Homo sapiens: one gene and its partners. The protein of the gene in region 2 purifies or fractionates together with the protein of the main gene of each other region. This does not show direct contact. Each region holds a gene or a part of one and is shown on either strand. Other genes may lie near its edges.

Region 1 (7,196 bases), about 130 Mb from region 2:
AGTGAGACTCTGTCTCAAAAAAAAGAAAGGAAGAAAGAAATCACTAGAATCACTGTTCACTCCACCAACATTTTATGTTTCCACTTTCAGTTGAACAAATATTCCACTAGAGTCACCTGGAATTCATTATTGTCTCCACCAAATTGCCCAAGTCAATCAGAAACCTTGAGACTGGCACACCATCTGATTCTCTGCCATACACTCGCTTATCAGCTCTGCTCGGAAGAAATGTTCTTAACCAGTTCGGCTTGCACTGATCACACTTCAGCAATAAAGGCCTGAATCTGACAGAAGTTCCTGCCTTCCAGGTCATTGTGGGTAGGGCCAGGCAAGTTTGGTTGGCTCCTACATTTGCACTAACGTTGAGAGAAGTACTATCCCCTCCCCTGCCGTTTCACGTAGATTCAGAGAGTGGGTGTAGCAGCTGCAAGAGCACCCCGTAAGAGGAAAGGGCCCCTGGCCAGAGGATGAGAGGCGGTCCTGTGGCCTCGAGCTCCTCCAGGGAGGGAGGGCACCGCGCTTCCTCTCAGCCAACTGCTGCCTCATTTCCTGAGCAGGAGGAGGGAGCGGAAAAGCTGCCAGCAGGCAGGCCGGGGTCTTTCCGACGGTTCCCACCCCAAAACCCTCACCATTTCACAGAAGGTTCAGTACTGCCCCTCCCCGAACAGAGAAGCACCCACCCACTCTTACCCCTTGGGCAGGAAACCTCAAGCCAGAGCAAAGTTCTCCCACCCTCCATGGGGAAGTGGGGGAGGGAGAAGCCGCTGAGCCCCTCCCACGGCCGCGCCCGGATCGGAGGCACTGAATGAATGAGGTGGAGAAAAAAAGAGGAGGAAAGCCACACCCCAAACCCCGTAAGGCTCAATTTCTTCAAAGGTCAAGCCTGCTCGCCCGAGCACTGTTTCCCCCTCGTCCGCTTGGTGTCCTACTGGTGCTGAGCCCCACCCATCCTCCGAGATCCCAACTTCATCTCCGAGCCCGCCGGCCTTCAGAGGACCGTGCTCCACGGCAAAAGGGACCTTATTCCGCTTGCCGGATACTCCAGCGCCTGCCCCTCCCTCATGAGCCTCACCATCTCCGTACCTGTTCCCGGGCCCGCCTTTCTCCCTCAACTTCTCGCTGGAGGCGCTCAGCTCGCTCCTCTGCATCATCTGCCTGCTGCTGCAGAACCTGGATCTTGCGCTTCACCGCCTCGATGGTGGTGATCCCAGCCATGGTGCCCACCCAGCTACTGCTCGCGCTCCGGTTCCTGCCTCCTCCGCTCGGCGTTGCAGCCTCCTCTCACCCTTACTTCCGCCTGCTACGCCCTGAAATACCGGAACTCACCAACCCGCCCGGATGTGACGTCCCTCTGCCGCGCCCTCCCACCGCCAGGCAGGCGGGAAGGCAGTCCACTGGAGGGAGAGCCGCGGCAGGGAGTGGATCCTCCCAGTCGCCCTGGAGTACGGCTCCCGGCCTTACCTTGGGCCAGTAAACTGGGACGGGGTTGGGACGAGGGAGTGTTACCATGGTAACTGGGCGGCGCTTCGTGCCCTAGCCTCTCCCGCCAGGCTGGCTGCCCACAATGGTTGGCCCCTTTGCAGGTAGTCGGCTGACCTTACACTCCCGCAATTGACCCCTCACTCCCGCAATGCCGATACCCGTCACCCCTCACTGTATTTGCTCCACAATATAAACATCCTACAAGTCTCTGCTTCCACTCACCCCACGACAAACTCCAAAACCAAGTTATAAGAAAAGTCTAAAAGACTTTCTGGGCCTCAGGTTCAAAAGAGCCCCACTCAGTCTCCTTTCAAAGTCGGCTCAGGTAGGTAGGTTCTCTCTCCCGTCTCCTGGAAGTCAATGAATGGAACTGTCGGAGTGGAAGGGATGGGCAAGATGGCACAAATTCTCATTCTATTTGGCATGGTATGAACTTAAGTGTTCTATTTAGAACAGACTTTTCTCCTTTTTTTTTTTTTTTTTTTTTTTTTTAAGAGACAAGATCTCGCTCTGTTGCTGGAGTGCGGCAGTGGCGAGATCACAACTCACTACAGCTTCGAACTCCTGGGCTCAAGCGAGCCTCCTACCTCAGCCTCCGGTGTAGCTGGGACTACAGGTGCACGCCACCCCGTCAGGCTCCCTGTTATTTTATTTATTTTTGTTTTGTTTTTTATTTTTTGGGACGGAGTCTCCTCTGTCGCCCAGGTTGGAGTGCAGTGGTGCGAACTCGGCTCACTGTAAGCTCCGCCTCCCGGGTTCAAGCGATTCTCCTGCCTCAGCCTCCCGAGTAGCGCCCTCCACCACGCCCGGCTAATTTTTTTTTTGTAGTTTTAGTAGAGACGGGGTTTCACCGTGTTAGCCAGGATGGTCTCGATCTCCTGACCTCGTGATCTGCCGGCCTCGGCCTCCCAAAGTGCTGGGATTACAGGTCCCTGTTACTTTTGAGAGTCATCATGCACCAAATTAACCAACCTTCCAGCCCCTCCAAACCTTGGAATGATTCAGGACTTGGCAATTTAATCATCAGCTGGGCGTGGTAGCTCATGTCTGTAAGTCTAGGATTTTGGGAGGCTGAGGTGGGAGGATGGCTTGAGCCCAGGAGTTCAAAACCAGCCTGGGCAATATAGCAAGACCTCATCTCTAAAAATAAATAAATAATTTAATAATCACTTACAATTCCTTTTGTAGGTAAGAAAGATATGCCCCCATTTTATCAGGAAGAAATCCTCTATTACAGACCACTGTCAGCCGGGCGGGGTGACTCATGCCTGTGATCCCAACATTTGGGAGGCCAACGCGAGAAGATCACTTCAGCCCAGAGTTTGAGACCAGCCTGGGCAGTATAGTGAGACCTCGTCTCTACAAACAATTAAAAAATTAGCCAGGCTTGGTGGCAGCACGTCTGTAGTCCCAGCTACTTGGGAGGCTGAGGTGGGAAGATTTCTTGAGCCGGGAAGGCAGAGGTTGCAGTGAGCCAAGATTGTATCACTGCCTCCAGTCTGGGTGACAGATTGAGAGCCTGTCTCAAAAAAATAAAAAACAGACGACTGTTACTAGATCCTTCATGCAACAGCCAGACATGAGTGCCTGTAAACTGTACTATAGAATTGAGCCTCCATTCTGTTACAACTTTTACCAATTTCAATGCCACTGTACTTCCAAGTACCCCCAAGGAACTGTTTATGAGTTAGAAACTTCCCTTTGGCCAGATGTGGTGGCTCATGCCTGTAATCCCAGCACTTTGGGAGGCCACGGCGGGCAGATCACCTGAGGTCAGGAGTTTGAGACCAGCCTGGCCAACATGGCAAAACCCCGTCTCTACTAAAAATGCAAAAATTAGCCGGGTGTGGTGGTGCACACCTGTAGTTCCAGCTATTCAGGGAGGCTGAGGCAAGAGAATTGCTTAAATCCAGGAGGCAGAGGTTGCAGTGAGCTGAGATGGTGCCACTCTACTCCAGCCCGGGTGACAGAGTGAGACTCTGTATCAAAAAAAAAAAAAAAAAAATGGCAAAACAGACCAGGCGCAGTGGCTCACACCTGTAATCCCAGCACTTTGGGAGGCTGAGGCAGGTGGATCACGAGGTCAGGAGTTCAAGACCAGCCTGGCCAAGATGGTGAAACCCTGTCTCTACTAAAAACCACAAAAACAAGCAAACAAACAAACAAACAAAAAACTAGCCAGGTGCAGTAGCAGGCGCCTGTAATCCCAGCCACTCGGGAGGCTGAGGCAGGAGAATTGCTTGAACCCAGAAGGCAGAAGTTGCAGTGAGCCGAGATCGCGCCACTGCACTCCAGCCTGGGTGACAGAGTGAGACACAGTCTGAAAAAAAAAAAAAGAAAAACAACAAAAAAAGAAACTTTCCCTACAGGCACTGCCATGCAGGATTTCTGGAAGCACAATAGTAAAGAGACTTGAGAACGTTATCTTCCCTCTTATTTCTTTGTATTCCTCCCACCTTCCCAGTAGGTAATCGTGATAAATTTTTCTTCTGGGACAGCTCTCTTTTCTCCTAGAAAATTAGGATGTGGAACAGGACTTACAATGAAGAGTCCTAATCCCTGAAAGGAATAGTAGGCAAGACAGTTGCTGCCCTCAATGTCTAGTTCTAAGAATGCTCCCTGCAGAGCCTCTGTTTTCCTATCACCTTTTGGAAATACCGAGCAATGAGACTATTCAGAAGAAACAACTTGGATAGATAATAATTTTCTCAATAGAGTAACCTGCACACTGATTTTTCCCCCAGAAATTAGGAAGGAAGATCAGGGTTCTGACTCTTAATAGACTCTACCCTGATGGCCTAAGAATTTTTCTAACTTGCTTTGTAGAAGTCTGATCAAGATGTGGCAGAAGTGACACTTTGTCATCTGGGTGCTGCTCAGCAGGGGGCACTATTGTACCTCCCTGTGCCCTGGTAAAGCAGCAGAAGACCTCATCCTAGCCAAACCAAGAGGGTATTGAGAGCACCACTGCATTTCTGAGACTGGTAGATTTGAGCAGATAATCTCCTCTTAATGCAGTCAAACAGATGGACTGACTCATGATAGCCTTTAGAAGCACAATGGATAGACAGCAAGGGGCCCAGTGCTATTGTGTTCCTAGTAACCAGCAATACAATATATCAACAGGTGTATATGTCCATCGTTGTCCCTTCTCTCCCCATCCTTCCTGCCACCTGTCCCTAAAAAATGGTGTTATGACTCTATGTCCTAACAATGCACTCCTCTTTCCCTTTGTTTCTCCCTAAACAGCATCTGATTTCATCTTGGATTAAAATGATCTTAGATGTGGTTGCACAACAATGTAAATATGCTACTACTGAATTAGACATTTAAAAATGGTTAAAATGGTAAGTTTTATGTATGCGTATTTTACCACAACTTAGAAAACAAAGTTAGACAAATTTAGGGAGGAAAAAAAAGTTTGGACTCGCCTTGCCATACCCTTGCCCTTTCTTTATTCAAGCAGTCCTAGTAAATCCTGCACTTTTCAGAAAGGCTTCTCAGATAACCAGAACTGCTTGTGTAAACACGTAGTTATTGACTCCCTCCTCCTTCTCTACTGCTTATATCTACTTCAAGATAATATGCTCTGTTTACTTATTTATTAACCTCAAGGACAGAAGCTGAGCTGTTAACTTCCTTTGTATTGGACAGAGTATACTCCCTCCAAAGATGCATATATTATGCTGCTGATGACTCTTACCTTTGCTTTCTGCTTTTAACCTTGTTGGTCCTTATTCAGCACCTCTCCCAATTCCTATAAACACTGTCCTTCTTTGACCCTTTGAGGCAGGGGTCATCCAACTTTTAGGGTCTTGTGGCCAGAGAGATAAGAAAGCCAGTAGACAGTATGTACAAGAATGAGCATGACTGTGTTCCGATAAAACTTTATTTACAAAACCAGGCTGTTGCAAGATTTAACCCACAGGTGGTAGTTTGCTGACTCTAGCTTTGAGGAAAGAAACCTTTCTTCTTGCTTGCTCCTGGCCACAACCTTCCCTCTCCTGTTTCTTGTTCTTATGCATATCTCTGAGGGTACTTTCTGACTTGGGAAAGCTAACAAAGGGGAGAGGGGTTGAATGAGTATTTTTAACCCTCACTTTACATATTTAAATGGGTTTTGGTGGATTCCTATGTAAATATGAAGAAACTTCTTTCAAATGAATATACTGAGTAGACCACATCTAGGTGAGGGGTGCTATGTGTGTGTATGTGTATGTCTGTACATGTGTAAAACAGATTAAGATAGACAGAATTCATCCCCAGGAAATCCTTTTATATTCCTAATGATTTTGATGTATTGCGTACAGCCTCTATGTTATTCTCCTTCTCATGATCTCAGGTTAGACTTGTTCTTTTTCTTGCTCCTGGAAACACCTCCTCAAGCCCACATACTAGCCGTTTCAGCCTAAGAGCAGACCCAGATTGATGTTACCCAATTTCTCACAAAACTGTTATTAACCTGACATTGTGCTAGTTTGTGAAAACTTCTATCTTCATGCCCATATGTTAGAAACAGAGAGATCCATCCAAATATACCAGGAACCTAGGCTATACAACTCCAGCCAGCCATCCACTTGCCCAAAGCCCAGGGGTAACCTGTAGATTTGGTAGGGTTGTTTGTTTGTTTGTTTTGTTTTGTTTTTTTGAGTTTTCTGAGAAGGGAGAATTTTTATCATTTTAAATAGAGACAGGGTCTTGCTCTGTCACCTAGGCTGGAGTGCAGTAGCATTATCATACCTCACTGCAAGCATGAACTCCTGGCTTCAAGCGATCCTCCCATCTCAGCCTCTGGAGTACGCGGGACTACCGGCACATGCCACCACACCTGGCTAATTTTTAAATTTTTTGTAAAGATAGGGCCTCACTATGTTCCCCAGGCTGGTCTTGAACTCCTGGCCTCAGGCGATTCTCCTGCCCTGGCCTCTCAAAGCAAAGTGCTGGAATTACAGGTCTGAGCCACCACACTGGGCACAAGAAGGGAGAATTAATAGTTTGTGGCGGCCTGGCCGGGCGCGGTGGCTCACACCTGTAATCCCAGCACTTTGGGAGGCCGTGGCGGGCGGATCACAAGGTGAGGAGATCGAGACCATCCTGGCTAACACGGTGAAACCCCATCTCTACTAAAAATACAAAAAATTAGCCGGGCGCGGTGGCGGGCACCTGTAGTCCCAGCTACTCAGGAGGCTGAGGCAGGAGAATGGCGTGAACCCAAGAGGCGGAGCTTGCAGTGAGCCAAGATCGTACCACTGCACTCCAGCCTGGGTGACACAGCAAGACTCCGTCTCAAAAAAAAAAAAAAAAAAAAGCCTGTGCTGGCCTTAACTTTTGGAAGAATGAGTTTAAATGATGTATATTTAGTTTGTGTTTCTAACCTCTGGCATAATATATTCAATTCTTACCACTTTCCTTGGCCACTGAAAGTGGTGGAAAACAAAACAGATCAGAAACCTAATGGCAGAGGCCAGGCATGGTGGCTCACATCTGTAATCCCAGCATTTTGAGAGGCCAAGGTGGGTGGATCACTTGAGGTCAGGAGTTGGAGACCAGCCTGGCCAACATGGTGAAACACTGTCTCTACTAAAAATATAAAAAATTACCCGGGCATGGTGGCAGCTGCCTGTAATCCCAGCTACTCAGGAGACTGAGGCAGGAGAATCACTTGAACCCGGGAGGTGGAGGTTGCAGTGAGTCGAGATCTTGCCACTGCATTC
Region 2 (7,521 bases):
AAAGAATCATCTGGCAACAAATCTTTTCAAAGAGGAAGCATGAGAGAAGCATGAGCTTTGGTTTAAGATAGACCAGGGCTTGAATTCTGACCCCAACACTTACTAGTTGTATGACTGCAGAAAAACGACTTAACATTCCTGAAACTGTTTCTAATTTCCATTATTTGAGGCAACACCATGTATTAAAGGAGAAAAATATAAACAAAGGAGCGGGCATGTAACAGGAGTTCAATAAATGAGGACTGGTATTTCCTTCCAGTCACTGGCATATGTAATAATCACAGTGTAGCTACAATTCTGTTTTCTTCCTGTTATAGAAATAAAATTGATCTGCCCATTACATAAATTAATATCCTGCTTTCTGTGAATTGCTTCGTTTACCTTGCGTCTTTCTTCTGCAGCTTCTAATTTCTTCTGAATTTCCTCCAGGGAAAGATCCTTCTTCTTTGGAGGGGAAAGGGGGAATTCTGGAACAGATTCTTTTGACCGAGGGCTGAGAATCAGCTCAAAAGCCTGGCCTGAGGCACGCTTCTCCAGTTCTTTCACCTGGATATCTAGAATTGATTATATTTATAATTCAGAAAACCAGGATTCTCCTGTTCTAATAAACTGTACTATAATTTTCTAAAACCCAAATCAATTTAATGTATTAAACTAGGGCTGATGAGGAAAGTTGTGTTTTTTTTCCCCTTTTTATTCCTATCAGTCTACTGACACTAGGGGAAGATGTATTTGCAGGCAAGATATTATTATCTAAATACCATTTCCCAAGGCCAGGTACCATGGCTCATGCCTATAATCCCAGCACCGTGGGAGGCCAACATGGGAAGATCCCTTGAGCCCTGAAGTTTGAGACCAGCCTGGGCAACAAAGGGAAAGCCCATCTCTACAAAAAAAATTTTTTTTGATTAGGTGGGTGTGGTGGCCCATGTCGATAGTCCCAGATGCTATGGAGGCTGAGGTGGGAGAATCGCTTGAGCCCACTTGAGCTCCAGAAGTCAAGGCTGCAATGAGCTATAATTAAGCCACTGCACTCCAGCCTGGGCAACAAGGTGAGACCCTGTCTCAAAAAAAATAAAAACCATCTCCCAGAAAAACAAAGCTCAACATTTTTGGATTAATAAATACTGTTTTGAGACATCAGTATCTGACAATCGCTTTCATAAACAAAAGACTTGTGCAAACTCCACAATTTTGCTTCAGACTAAGCCAAACTGTCCAATAAACAATTACGAGCTCTCGGCACATTCAAGTGATAATCATTTTTAAATTCTTCTCCTATTCATAAAATAGGTTTTGGTAAGACCAAAACATAAGTGCCAAATCAAAGGCGAAGACCTGAGCCATCTCAATCTAAAATCATAAGCCCATTACAATTTCAGATTTTCCAAATAGATTACCTACCAGAAGAAGCCATGGTGAATAGAAGACAAGCGACAGGCAGTGTATTCTGCACAATCAACTGGGATAAGGAAAGTCCTGAAAATGATTTTCAAAAACATGCAATCACTTTCTTTGCCTTTCTATATGTCATCAACCCAAAAAAATCTCACATCACATCTACATACATCGTCAGAAAAATACGTGGAATAAAGACGTCTAAATTAACCACGAAAAAAATTATCAAAATCTACTAAATAAACATTGGGAAATATGACCTGAATATGATATTGGTTCCAGAAAATCAAGTTAACTGAGCTTTCTCGGTCATAAAACTCTTGGATTTTTAAAATCAGACAAAGTCACAAGGGTGAAGAATTTTTCCCCCATAAACTCTTTAACATTTCACCGAAACTGTAAGAAGATATTCCAGATTCAACTCAACAGTGCCCCCGGAGCCATCTTAATACTGCCTACAACTCATTGTGCAAATGAAATACCCACCCCTGCTTTGTCTGTGTCTGACGTGGTGGATAAGAAAACGCCCAAGCTAATAGTAACCAATAATGTTGAACTCCTATTGTCCCTCAGGTTTAAGCTTCCTTGCCCAACAGCAAGCAAAATGTTTATGAACCTCTAGATTTTGACTTATATTTGCTGCCGTTATGTCATGAAAAATGCTGTATCTCTTGTTGATCTTTTTAACATTATGACTTTTGTAGACGCCAGCTAGTACCAAAAACGTAGGATGACAGGTTCCCAAAAGCTAGGAATTAAAATCAGAGGCAGCGACAAGATTTAAGAAAAGCAGAGAATTAGACGCAGCACCGGACCCAGGATGGGCGTGGCCCTGGTCCGGGCGAGGAAAAGAGGACCGGTCGCCCCCGGCCAATCAGAGCACGCCTTGCGCTCCGGCCCCTGGCCCCGCCCCCTTCCTCCCCGCGCCTTTTCGAATCTCCCCGAACTCAACACCCCGGAGCCCGCGCGCGTGGGAAGGGGAGGGGTGGGCGGGGCTAACGGTCCAATCCGGGTAACTCCGCCCCTGCCTGACTCCCCCTGCGCGGACGCCCCCCCCAACTCCCGCCAAAAACACCTCCAGGCCGCCGCCACCACCCCCTTCACAGTTCAGCGGGTGGGGCAGGCCCCGGGAACAGGCCCCCGGGTGGTCCCGCGGTGAGCTCGCCACCGCCTCCCGCCGTCCCCATGCCCAACCTGCCGCCACCCACGCTGTCCGCGCGTCCGGCCGCGAAGACAGAAGAACCCTCGTGGGGCCCGGGAGCGCCGCCCCTCAATCACCAGCTGCGGTCGCCAGGGGACGGTCGCAGGGAGGGTCGCGGCCCTGGCTGCCCGCAGTTTGGTCCTAAAGCCGCTGGTCCCTGGGGCACCGCCCCGTCCCTTCAGACAATGGGGAACCCGGCGGGGCCCGCAGGGAAGGGAGGGAGGGAGGGAGGTAAACGAGGGCCCACGCCCCCTATTGTCTCCTCGACGGCACCCCGGAGCGGACGCCCGGTGATCGCCCAGCCCCCTGCCCACGAACAGCCGCGCCCCCGGAGAGCGGGGACAAAGGCGAGGCTCCGCCCGAGCCACACACAAAGCGGAGCGACCCCCGCCCACCAACCCCTCCGAGGCCCGCAGCCCCGCCCGCCGCCCTGCAGCAGGGGGTCGCTGCCACGGCCCAGCCCCTCCCGCCGACCGCGTCCCTCTTGCTGGCCTCAGCCAGCCGCCGCCTCCTCCGAGCCCCGCACCCACCTGCTCAGTCCGAGCCGCCTGACCACACTCTGAGCACCAACAGACCCGGGCGCGCACAAAAGCGCCAAACAGAGGCACGTGACCTCCGCGCGGGGCTCCGCATTGGCCGAGAGCGGCGGCACGTGCCGCCCCCGCCCCCCACAACCCGCGTGGAGCGCCGCCCCCCGGGACCCCGAAGCACCTCGGGAAGTGTAGTCCTGTCCCGGAGGGCAGGAGGACAATGCCGGGGGTTGCAGGGCGCCTGGGGAGCATCCCCAGGTGTGGGCCTGGGACTAGGGGGGTGGTCTCGCCGTGGAAGAGGGCGTGGCAGTGGACCCCGGACTAGGTCCGAACCAGCTCCCCATTCTCGAGAACAAGGGCAGGGCGGAGCAGGCGGAGGGCGGGGGGGTCCTTCCCTACCTTTCCAAACTTTGGCCGCCTGGACTCCACCTTGTAGAGCCACATGCCCGCCTCGCCCCAAGGGCAGCACTCGGACAGAGCAGTGCCCCTTCTAGTGCGCCACCCACATGGGTGCCTAAGACGCCCGAGCCCCTGTGACAGCACAATGCCACTCCACGCCCCTGCAGGGCCCCCTGCCCCCGGCACCCTACACCGACACCGGCGTGTCACCCATATTGTGACATCATCGTAATTTCTAATCCACTCAGCCCACAGGTCGCGGGCGTGGCCCTTCCCTCACTGTGTGCGTTCTTGCCAGCATCCTCAGGTTCCCGAGCCGGTGACCAGGGACCTGTGCGGGAAAGCGTGGGGCTCTGGAATTTGATCGCCTTTGGTCTAACAAAGCCACTCAGCTTAAATGCAGACTCCATCTGTTCTTCCAAGCCTTCTGCGGATGATAGGGGAGGAAGAGCAATAGCCGTTCTAGACTACACAGATTGCAGTTAAGTGTTGCTTTTGTTCTCAGAGCACGTGCTCCCCAGAGCAGCACTGGGTTCTTTTTAAAAATCGAAAAAGGAGCCACAAGGTCACTGTTCTCCCTGACCTGGATAGCTCAGAACCTCAGCAAAGGCACAAAGGAAATTGGTCTGACCGTGCCTTAGAATAACTGGCCCTTTCTCTCACAAAAAGGGGAAAAAAATAAATGAAATGAACATGGTCCCCGCCTCCTCCCATTCTCTGACCAAGACCGTGTCCTCGGTTGGTGGTCAATACACCAAGACACCTGCTTTGAGATCTTGACTAAGCAGAAGAGATATCTTTATTTTATTAATGAGCTGCATCTCCCCAAATCAAGAAACAAATGTGACCAACCTTCCTGAAACAACAGTCCTAATTTAGAAAGACTCTCATGCCTAGTTAGTCACCAGGGATGTGCCAGAGATAAAATACAACTAAGGGGTGCCCAAGACAATAAAAACTGGATCATACAAGCAGCAGCACACTACACAAAGCAAACAATTAGCAATGCGCTGTTGCCTGAAATATGCTTGTTGCGGCATTTTTTCCAACAATCGCCCTTGTGTGGGGTCGGCCTCCCCCCCAAGCCAATCGAAGTGGTTTTCACTTAGCCTGTGAGCAGGACCAGGAATAATTCAGATACTGAGCCTTGAAAGGCTTCTTCTCAGACCAAACTTAGCTTCAAAATGGCTAGGTGCTTCCGTCTGTCATTTTTCTGAACAGAATCTCAGACATCATTAGAAAAGTTGGAGAAGGATGGGCATGAGACCCCTCAGGAAAGCGACAGATAGGCAGGCAACACAAATGAGCAAGGAACCCAAGCCCAAGAGGTCCTTACCCACTGAACAGGCTTTTTATCTTGAAGTCTTTGTATTTGATCTGGAGGTTCACAGAGGAAGGTCCCACTCATTTAATGCATTTTTTTAAGTACAATAAATTGCCACACAAAAGTCTCACATTCCTGACTATTAATGTTGTGACAGAAAAAAGAAATAAATCTTTCAAAACACTGATAATTTGAAAGCACTTACACTGCTTCCCCCCACATTTTCTTTCTCCCTAGAGCAGATGTCTATTTCCATGGAAACCATAGCAAGGAACGTAGATGTTAGAACTCATGTTCATTTTTAATCTTTTTTAGCAATGCCACTTGGCTTCTGGGTTTGTTGGGAGATGCCTGGTTCTGCCAGTCTGTGACAATGTTCCAAGCTCCTCACAGCTGCTTGAGGACTGAGAGGGCTGGGTTAAAGTTTCCCCTAGAATGAGCCTTTGAATAAAAAGGTGCTTTTGAGGTGGGATTCCTGTCCTTTTATTATTATTATTATTATTATTATTATTATTATTATTATTATTATTATTTGACTTAAAAAAAATTGAGACAGGGTCTCACTATGTTGCCCAGGTTGGCCTCGAACTCCTGGGTTCAAGCAATCCTCTTGTCTCAGCCTCCCAAAGTGCTGGGATTACAGGCATGAGCCACCACACCCAGTCTGATCCTTGTTCTTTAGGGTGGGGCTGCCTTCCCAAGAGCCAGATCACAGCTCATTATTGTCAGCTTTTGTGGGTGTCCTATATAAGCCTTGGAATAGGAAGGGCTTTCAACTGTAAGGAGAGACAACAGTTTTGCCACTTCACCTTGGAGAGGGGCAGAATCGCCCTTCTCGAAAGCTTCCTAAAACGAACTTCAAGATCCACTCTCTTCTGAAGTGGCAGCAAGGAGTTAATGTTCACATCTTGGAACTGTCTATCTTTGCCCATAAGAATTATTTTTGCTTCTGCTCAGATGGTTTGGTTGGATTGTTATGGAGCTGGCTGTGACTATGGAGCCACACAACGAAGTGGAGATAGGGCAGTCATCCAGCTTATTTGATCTGTGTAGACAGCTAAAGGAGAGCACTTCAGGCTTCAAAGTCTAGAAGGAATGTCTACACTGATCAAACGGCGGGCCAGGCCGTTGTCAGATCTCCTCTCCTGCCAGAGAGCCCGGCAGCCTTTGTTCATTGTTGGGCTTGAGGCTGCAGGGTTTGTCTCCCACATGGCGCCTCCAAGTTCCACAGCTGCTTTCGAGGCCTGTCCTCGGCCAAAGGGTGTCGTGGGAGAGGTTTGCTTGTTGTCCCCGGTCTCTCTGTTCCCTTTGTCTCCTAATCCTCAAGCACTATGCTCTAACACTCCCTTCTCTATTCAAAACCTGTCTATGAGTCTGCTGTTTTACACATCGATCTCCCTCACTAGACCATTAGGTCCTAGAGGGCAGGGTGCTGTCTTTGTCTTGGTATCCCTAGTGCAGTGCCCATCCTCAGGCCTGGCCCAGGATGATGGCGCCTGAATGTTTGCAGAGAACTTTGGGAAAGAACAACCTCTTGGCCGGGCACGCTGGCTCACACCTCTAATCCCAGCACTTTGGGAGGCTGAGGCAGGCGGATCACAAGGTCAGGAGATCGAGACCATCCTGGCTAACACGATGAAACCCCGTCTCTACTAAAAATACAAAAAATTAGCCAGGCATGGTGGCGGGCGCCTGTAGTCCCAGCTACGCACGAGGCTGAGGCAGGAGAATGGCATGAACCTGGGAGGTGGAGGTTGCAGTGAGCCGAGTTCACGCCACTGCCTTCCAGCCTGGGCGACACAGCAAGACTCCGTCTCACAAAAAAAAAAAAAAAGAACAACCTCTCTCATCCTTCTGTGATCTTCTGTCTCTTCTGTGATATTAGACACTTGCACTCTGGGAGTGGTGAGGATTAAATGAAATAATGTAAATGAAAACAGCACAATGCCTGGCACATTTAAAGTGCTGTGCACTTGTTAGGTATCATTGCTAGAGATGTTTCCTGATTGCTATAGATTATTTTATTTTTATTTTTTGAGACGGAGTTTTGCTTTTGTTGCCCAGGCTGCAGTGCAGTGGTGCAATCTCAGCTCACTGCAACCTCCGCCTCCCAGGTTCAAGCGATTCTCCCGCCTCAGCCTCCTGAGTAGCTGGGATTACAGGTGTGCGCCACCATGCCCAGCTAATTTTTTGTATTTTTAGTAGAGATGGGGTTTCATCACGTTGATCAGGCTGGTCTCAAACTCCTGACCTCAGGTGATCCACCTGCCTCGGCCTCCCAAAGTGCAGGGATTACAGGCGTGAGCCGCGGTGCCTGGCCTGCTATAGGTTATTGAATGAGTGAATGACTATTAGACTTTCACCCTTTGATGGAAATTGTAGTTACTGGGTTAACTCTTCCCATGGGGTTAAATTCAATTCATTTAACACTTTATTTTTTATTTTTATTTTTATTTTTATTTTTTTGAGCAACAAGGCTGTTTATTTCACCTGGATGCAGGCGGGCTGAGTCCGAAAAGAGAGTCAGCAAAGGGTGGTGGGATTATCATTGGTTCTTATAGGTTTTGGGATAGGCAGTAGAGTTAAGAGCAATGTTTTGGGGGCAGGGGATGGATCTCACAAAGTACATTCTCAAGGGTGGGGAGAATTACAAAGAAACTTCTTAAGGG
Region 3 (7,823 bases), on a different chromosome or scaffold from region 2:
TATAAGGAATACCCATGGCTGTAGCAAGGGGCTCCCTGCCAAGGCCAGCAGAGAGCTGGGGGCAATGCAGGGGCAGTGTGAGGGATGTCTACTCAGCCCCTGGGCTTGCAGTAGGAGGCAAAACCATGGAGGTTTTGGAAAAAATCCATAAAAACTGGTCAAACACTGAGAAAAAGGGCAGAGCAAGGCGAGCGCCAGTAAAGGAAAATGAGAGGAGCAGGGCAGCCACGTGTTAAGAGCATCGGCTCTGAGTCAGATTGTCTTTGAGCCACGGCTCAGCCACTCAACACCTGTGTAACTGTGGGCAACTTATTTAGCCTCTCTAAGCTTCAGTTTCCTCCTTCACAAGTTGGAGTTAACAATAACAGTTCCTCCTTCTTAAGGCTGTTCTGAGATAATCCACTGCTTTTAATACTCAGTTAATCAACAGGACCTTCGGTGAGACTCATAAAACTAAACAGGTTCTCTTACTCCATGCTAGATCCACTGAATTGGGATGTGTAGGGCGGGGGCTTGGGAATCTTCTCTTTTTTTTTTAAAGCCCCCGAGTGATTCTGATGATAAGCCAAGTTTGGGAAATTGTAAAATAACATGCAGAAAGCACTGAGTACATTGCCTGCACAGGGTCCACATTCCATAAATATTAGGTTATCCCCTTTCTCTGTCAAAAACAAGGACACAGAGACCCTGAGATTTCAGAGTGGAAAGGAGAGAGGACCTGTGTAGGGAAAGGAGGTGGGGGGAGGGGCTGGGGGCAGCACTTGGACACAGCATAGGAAGCAGGTCCTTGGTCGGACTGTAGGGCAGGAGAAACAGCACCATATATAGAGAGTAGATGGTAGCTTGTCTTCCAGGTGCTGAAGGCACCTGGAGCTTGGCCACCTAGAGTGACAAGAGCCCATCATGGGCACAGGGCCGGATGACAGTGTGGAAGCATTCTGGGGACAGCATTGGGGGTTGGGAAGAATCACTGTGGGGGACATTGGAGTACTACCCTAGAGAGAGGTGAGACTGTAAAAGAAAAACTCTGCATGATGGTGGGGTGACAAAAGACTCTGGAAAGTTTGGGAAGTCCTGGGGTCCTCATCATGGGACTGATATGTGCCATTTCCTGCCTCTCAAGCTCTTCCCAGTTACGGGGGCGGCTCTCTAACCACAGGACAGGCACTACTGTCCCCATTAGAAAAATGGGAAGCAAGAGAGAGGGAGAAACTGAGGCACCATGTAAGTTGAGTGCTGTGTTCAAGGTCACCAGGAAGCTTGGGCAGTCTTTCCTATCTGCTCCTGGTGCTGCGGCTCTGCCTCCCCAGCTCTGTCCCTGTCCCCCCTGCCCCTCCAGCCCCCACCAGCAACTTGGGTTTCCAATCTTGCCTCCAGCTGCACTGGGCCTTGGTTATTTATAGAGTGTCAGATGCCCAGGGTTGTCTGTGCTAGCAGCTGCAGGTCAGCTCCCTCCCAAGTGCCAGGACTGGTGGAGAACCAAAACTGGAGGCTGGAGGTCACAGAAGCCCAACCCCTGGGGGGCTGGGAACATGAGCAGTCGACACAAACAGCTATGTCATCTCTGATGTTCAGACCATGCTTTATGCTAATCTAACCATAGGTTCATCTTAAAACAATCCTGGGTGGAAGGAAGATGGGGAAACTGAGGCAGAGAATGGGGAAACTACCACCACACCAAAGCCATATGGCCATTCTCCTACCTTAAGCTGGGGGTTGGGAATGGCAGGAAGTGAAGTCTGGTTGGGGTTGTGGGGTGGGCAGAGAAATCTCAGGGTAAATGACCTGCCAAGGTAGCTGCTTTGGCATTTGTGGCCCTGTCCCTCTGCCCTGTGGCCTGGCATGGTCTCCAGGCTGACAGCTTAATGAGGGTAAATGAGGAGCCATTAGAACCTGAGCTGGGGCCCCAGGGCACAGCAGGGCTGCTGAAGCCAGAGGTCAAGGCCAGGGAATTTCTAATGGCCCCTTAGGGTTGTAACTCAAGTGGGGTCTCATCTCTGGATCCCTCTCCCTCCTCCTGCAGGCTAGTACCTCACATCCACATCCCCCCATCCCCAAACGGCTGCAGTCTCCTCTCCAATTTCAGCTGGAGGATTAATTGAGGTAGATGGTAAATTCTTATACCTTCCACCCCCACAATGACTCATTGCTTGATCACTGTACATTCTAAAAGCTGGAACCAAACAGAATTACAGGGCTAAGTCCTCTGGGGGAAGTGGTAGGTGGTTTTGATTTATCCACTGTCTTGGATTACTTGTGTAAGTTTACCCTAGCCCTGGTTACTGAGATGAAACCATTTCTCTCCTGGCGCTGGGGACATAAGGGGATAAGGTGCCCCAATCCTCTTATTCCCATACCCGGGGGGCCCCTTCCCAGAGCCCTAACTCCTCCCATTGTCCCCCAAGTCCACACTCACATCAGTGGCCTTCTTCTCGGCCTGCTCCAGTTTCTCCTGGGCCTCCTTCACGGATTCAGAATACTTTTCCACCTCATCCTCTGTCCCCTTCAGCTTCTTCTGGAGGGCCTGCTGCTCCTCCTCCAGCTGGGACAGAGGGGACTTGGTCAGCCAGGCTGGGAGGGGGCCCAGGCCCAGAATGGAGACGCGGTGTGTGTAGGGGCGCTACTAAGATTTGGAGGCTACTGGGATGGAAGCGGAATAACATAAAAGGGACAGTACAGTCAAGGGTACTGGTGGGACCCGTTGAGGGTACAGAGAAAACTTCAGGCCCCAAGGAGCAGGACCAACCGCGCTCTGCAAAGGCAGAGTGGAAACCAGGGGCCTGGGGCTTCCCCAGGCTATTGTAGGGGAGAGAAGCGGCTCTGGCGAAGGCCCTGAGGGTACTGCGAAGGCCCAGCCCCCACCCTGGGTGAGAGAGAGCCTTGGCGGGCAGGCCCGGGGCTGGGGGACCCATGGCAGCGGCCCACCCTTGCCCTAGGCGCGGGGAGAGCAGGCTGCACTGGGCCCGGCCCTAACCTGCTTGCAGCGGTCCTCAGCTTGCTTCTTGTCGGCTTCGGCCTGCTCGGCGCGGTCGATGGCGTTCTCCTTGTCCAGCTTCAGCATCTGCATCTTCTTCTTGATGGCGTCCATGGCTGCGGTGGGGGGTGGGCCGGCCGGCAGGCGGTGAGGACCGGACGGACTGGGCTGGGTGAGCGGACTGGGTGCACCGGTGGCAGGCGAGGAGGACGGAGCGGGACTGGGACGTCCCGGCCACGCGGGCGCCTAAAAGGCGGGGAGGGACCGGGCGGGGCCGGCAACCAGGACCCTCCCCCACCTCGGCCCAAACCTTGTAGGGGCAGAAGCACGGCCCGGCCGGGGGGTGCGGCCGCCCCCTTCGCCCACCCACTGGGGACCGCCTCCCTTGGGGTCCCGCCCCCATCCCCCTCTTCCCTGCCAGCCGTCGGAGGAAAAAGTGGCCGACGGTCGGCTGGAAAAACCCCGGCGATGCGAAGGGGAGGGGACCCTTGGGCTGGGGGCTCCGTGCTTCCTCTGAGTGACAGCCGGACCCAGTGGCAGCTGCGGCTGGGGCCCCTGGGGCTATTTCGGGGCGTGAGCTCACGGCAGCTGCCCGGGCGCAGGGACCGGCGTGCCCCCCCTCAGCTGCAGCAGCCGCTACCCTTAATTTAGAAGTTTCCTGCAAATCCCCCCGGATTAAATGTCTCTCGGGAGGCGGAGCTCCTCGGCAGTTTGAGTGCCTCAGTTTACCCTGAGTCCCTCTAGGTTTGCGTTATCGACGTGGTGGTAGTAGCGGAGTCTCATCGGGAGCTTGGGGAAACTGAAGCAGGAAGCGAGCCCAGAGCCCCGGTCGCGGTGGGGAGTGTGGCCGGGCTTGCTGCCCCCAGGACCGGCCTGACCTCTCATCCCCTCGCCTCCCCTCCCAGCCCCTGCCCCTGGAGCCAGGCCCTTCCTGCGAGCACCCGGCGGCTCAGGACCCAGCTCCCCGCCCCGCCCCCCACGTGCCCCGCATATTTTCCACGCGGCTGCGGCCAGGCTGGTCACCGCGCGTTCCCCGCCCCCGCTCCCACCCGGACGCGTCCCGAGCCCCTCCGCTCCCCGCCCCTGGCTCCGCCTGGCCCCACTCCCCTCCGCGCGCCTTCCCTCTTCTCCCCCGCTCCCCGCGGACGCTCCTCTCTTTCCCAGTGGGCCAACTTTATGCTGAAATTTCTTTTCTGCCCTTTTTTGGGATGTTTCCCCATTGGGAGGCGGAGCCGGGCTGCGGCGGGGAAGGCGGAGGGCGAGGGGAAGAGTCACTGAGCTGCGGGGCATAGGGGGTCCGGGGCGAGGTGCCTTCTCCCACCCAGGCCGCCAAACCAGCGCCGGAGCCGGGTCGTGGGGTCTGGGAGTCGGAGGCGCGAGGCGCGAGGGTGTTTGTTTTCGTTTTTCCCTGGGGTGGGGTGGGGGGAAAGGAAGTGGAGAGCCGCCGGGAGGAGGGGGAAGGGGAGGAGAGAACAAGCGGAGGAAGCCGGGAGGGAGCTGCTAGCCTCGCCCCCACCCTCCAGTCATAGAGGGGCGGGAGGCCTGGATTTTGCAGTGGGCTGGGGACCGTGGGAACCCGAGGCCGCTGGCCGGGGCGGTGGGGAGGTGGCGTGGAAATGCATTCAGATCTGTTTAGCTGCCTGCTAGCCACACGGAGAGCAACCCTGGCCTGACCTCGCAGTGTTCCTCTAACTCCGTGGAAGACGCCTCATCCACCAGTAGCCTATGCTAGACCACTGGGTATCCCCTGCCCTTCGCGTCTCACAACCACCTAATCCTGGAGAGGCTGCCTTCTACCAAGGAGGTTCCTCCTCGGGTCGGTCTGGGCTGGCCTCTGGCCGCGCCTTATGTTTTCTTCAGTCTGTTTTGTAGTCTTACTTCTAGTTCCTCAACTCATTCATTCATTTGACTGTCCCATGACATTGTTGTCAAATATCTTTTTAAAAGTTAATGCGAATATTATCTAAAATTCTCCAAAACCCCTCCCTAATCCCTGTCCCCCCACCTTTTTTGAGACGGGAGCTTGCTAGATTGCCCAGGCTGGTCTTGAACTTATGGGCTTAAGTGATCCTCCCGACTCAGCCTCCTGAGTAGCTGGGATTACAGGCGTGCGGGCACCCTGCCTGTTTTGAGGAGAAAAAAAAAATCCACATTTCTTAATATGGTATAGAAGGCCCGTTGTTTTGGCTGTTGCCTGCCTCTCTGGCCTCATCTCCTTCCATGCCCAACCTCACCCCCAGTATTCATACTTGTACCTCATGCTGCATTCATAATGAGCTACGTGCAGGAGCTGGAAATAGCCATACTTTTCTTAAAGCTTCCACAGTTTATGCATTCTGTTCTCTCTCCCTAAAATGCCCATCCCCTTGGCTGATTCCTGGTGGCCTTTAAGACTCAGTAAGTGTCAGCTTTTCTGGGAAGCCTTCCCTGGCCACTTCTCTTCCCACCGCCTCACCTAATAGGTGCGTGTTCTTGGTGCGGGCTCTCACCCTCATCCTAGTCCCATGGTATAACTGTTCTTATACCGGTTTGGCGCCTCCGCCGGTCTGTGAGTCCTCAACAGAAACGACTGTTCTCAATTCTGAATCCCCAAGGCCTATCACAGCACCAGGCATAGAGTTGGCACTTCATGAACATTTGCCAGATGAGTTTTTTATGTACCAGTTTCTGGGTACTTATCAAATATACTAATACGGTGTGGGTCTTTTGGTCTTAGAACCCATTACACTCTTAAAAAGTATTGAAGACCCCCAAACAGCTTTTTTGTTGAAGTGGGTTATATCTACCAATAGTTGCCATATTAAAATGAAACTTGAGAAAAATTTTAAATATGTATCAATTCGTTAAAAATAACAAAAATAAACTCATTACACATTAATCATGTTAACATAATGTTCTAAATGAAAGATAACTATATTCCCATTCCCCGAATTAATGAGAGTATGGAAATTATTTTACATTTTTACGAATCTCTTTACTCTCTGGCTTCCAAGGGGACAGCTGTATTATCAATATCTCCTTCCATATTTGATCTGTTGCTATATGTTGGTTACTGAGACATATGAAGAAAATCCTGTCTCACAACAGATATGCAGTTGGAAAGATTTATTTATTATTTTATTTATTTATTTTGAAACAGTCTTGCTCTGTTGCCCAGGCTGGAGTGCGGTGGTGCGATCTTGGCTCACTGCAACCTCCGCTTCCCAGGTTCAAGCAATTCTCCTGTCTCAGCCTCCTGAGTAGCTGGGACTACAGGCATGCACCACCATGCCTGACTAATTTTTGTATTTTCAGTAGAGACAGGGTTTCACCATGTTGGCCAGGCTGGTCTCGAACTCCTGACCTCAAGTGATCCGCCTGCCTTGGCCTCCCAAAGTGCTGGGCTTACAGGCGTGAACCACCACGCCTGGCCTATTTATTATTATTATTATTTGTTTATTTTTTTGAGACAGAGTCTCGCGCTGTCACCCAGGCTGGAGTGCAGTGGGGCGATCTCAGCTAACTGCAACCTCCGCCTCCCAGGTTCAAGTGATTCTCCCGCCTCAGCCTCCCGAGTAGCTGGGACTACAGGCATAAGCCATCACACCCAGCTAACTGTTGTATTTTTTGTTTGTTTGTTTTGTTTTTTTGAGACGGAGTCTCGCTCTGTTGCCCAGGCTGGAGTGCAGTGGCACAATCTCGGCTCACTGCAACCTCCGCCTCCCAGGTTCACGCCATTCTCCTGCCTCAGCCTCCCAAGTAGCTGGAACTATAGGCGCCCGCCACCATGCCCAGATAACTTTTTATATTTTTAGTAGAGACGGGGTTTCACTGTGTTAGCTAGGCTGGTCTTGAACTCCTGAACTCAGATAATCTGCCTGCCTTGGCCTCCCAAAGTGCTGGGATTACAGGCGTGAGCCACCATGCCGGGCCTGGCATATTTATGTTTTTTTGAGACAAGGTCTGGCTCTGTCACCCAGGCTGTAGTGCAGAGACACAATCACGGCTTGGCTCACTGCAGCCTTGACCTTCTGGGCTCAAGTGCTCTCTCCGCCTCAGTCTCCTCCAGTAGCTGGGACTACACATGTGCACCATCATACCCGGCCCTTTTTTTTTTTTTTTTAAATAGAGATGGTGTGCCACTATGTTGCCTAGGTTGGTCTCAAACTCCTAGGCTCAAGCTACCCTCCTGCCTCAGCCTCCCAAAGTGCTGGAATTACAGGCCTGAGCCACTGTGCCTGGCCGATAATTGGCAGTTTCTTAAGGGGCAGTTGCAATGTAGAATGTGAAACCATATCAGTGACCTTTTTGTACTGTTAAACTAAAATCCGTTGTTTTGGCCAAGTGTGGTGGCTCACGCCTGTAATCCCAGCACTTTGTGACGCCAAGGTGGGTGGATCACCTGAGGTCAGGAGTTCGAGACCAGCCTGGCCAACATGGTGAAACCCTCCCGTCTCTACTAAAACTACAAAAATTAGTCAGGTGTGGTGGTGGCACACGCCTGTAATCCCAGCCACTCGGGAGGCTGAGGCAGGGGAATCACTTGAACCTGCGAGGCGAAGGTTGCAGTTAGCCGAGATTGCACCACTGCACTCCAGCTTGGGTGACAGAGCAAGACTCTGTCTCAAAAAAAAAAAAAAAATCCGTTTTTCTGAACTGCACCTGATTGGATCTTTTACCCATGCATAATTTTGTAACACCGTGCATTCGTCATATGGAAAATAATTGATTCACTGAGCTATGCAAATCTTCCAAATATTAATGTTTCATTATACATTATTTTAAAAATCACAATAGGTTTCAGGCCAGGTGCGGTGGCTCATACCTGTAATCCCAGCACTTTGGGAGGCCGAGGTGGGTGGATTGCCTG

The links.
Region 1: the proteins of STMN1 (region 2) and TPM3 purify together in Homo sapiens (affinity purification with mass spectrometry; 2 studies listed by BioGRID, with this or other methods). This does not show direct contact.
Region 3: the proteins of STMN1 (region 2) and TPM2 fractionate together in Homo sapiens (co-fractionation; 2 studies listed by BioGRID). This does not show direct contact.

The regions. Positions count from the first base shown.
Region 1 is NC_000001.11:154,181,905-154,189,100, forward strand, and holds part of TPM3 (tropomyosin alpha-3 chain), read right to left. Parts: intron 5,539-7,196; exon of another isoform or gene 5,354-5,538; intron 1,315-5,353; exon of another isoform or gene 1,216-1,314; coding exon of another isoform or gene 1,084-1,215; intron 1-1,083. UniProt on the Homo sapiens protein: Binds to actin filaments in muscle and non-muscle cells. Plays a central role, in association with the troponin complex, in the calcium dependent regulation of vertebrate striated muscle contraction.
Region 2 is NC_000001.11:25,903,260-25,910,780, forward strand, and holds the start of STMN1 (stathmin), read right to left. Parts: upstream 3,161-7,521; 5' UTR 3,130-3,160; exon of another isoform or gene 3,103-3,129; intron 2,787-3,102; exon of another isoform or gene 2,593-2,786; intron 1,480-2,592; 5' UTR 1,418-1,479; coding exon 1,405-1,417; intron 555-1,404; coding exon 382-554; intron 1-381. UniProt on the Homo sapiens protein: Involved in the regulation of the microtubule (MT) filament system by destabilizing microtubules. Prevents assembly and promotes disassembly of microtubules. Phosphorylation at Ser-16 may be required for axon formation during neurogenesis.
Region 3 is NC_000009.12:35,686,730-35,694,552, forward strand, and holds the start of TPM2 (tropomyosin beta chain), read right to left. Parts: upstream 3,197-7,823; 5' UTR 3,089-3,196; coding exon 2,975-3,088; intron 2,543-2,974; coding exon 2,417-2,542; intron 1-2,416. UniProt on the Homo sapiens protein: Binds to actin filaments in muscle and non-muscle cells. Plays a central role, in association with the troponin complex, in the calcium dependent regulation of vertebrate striated muscle contraction.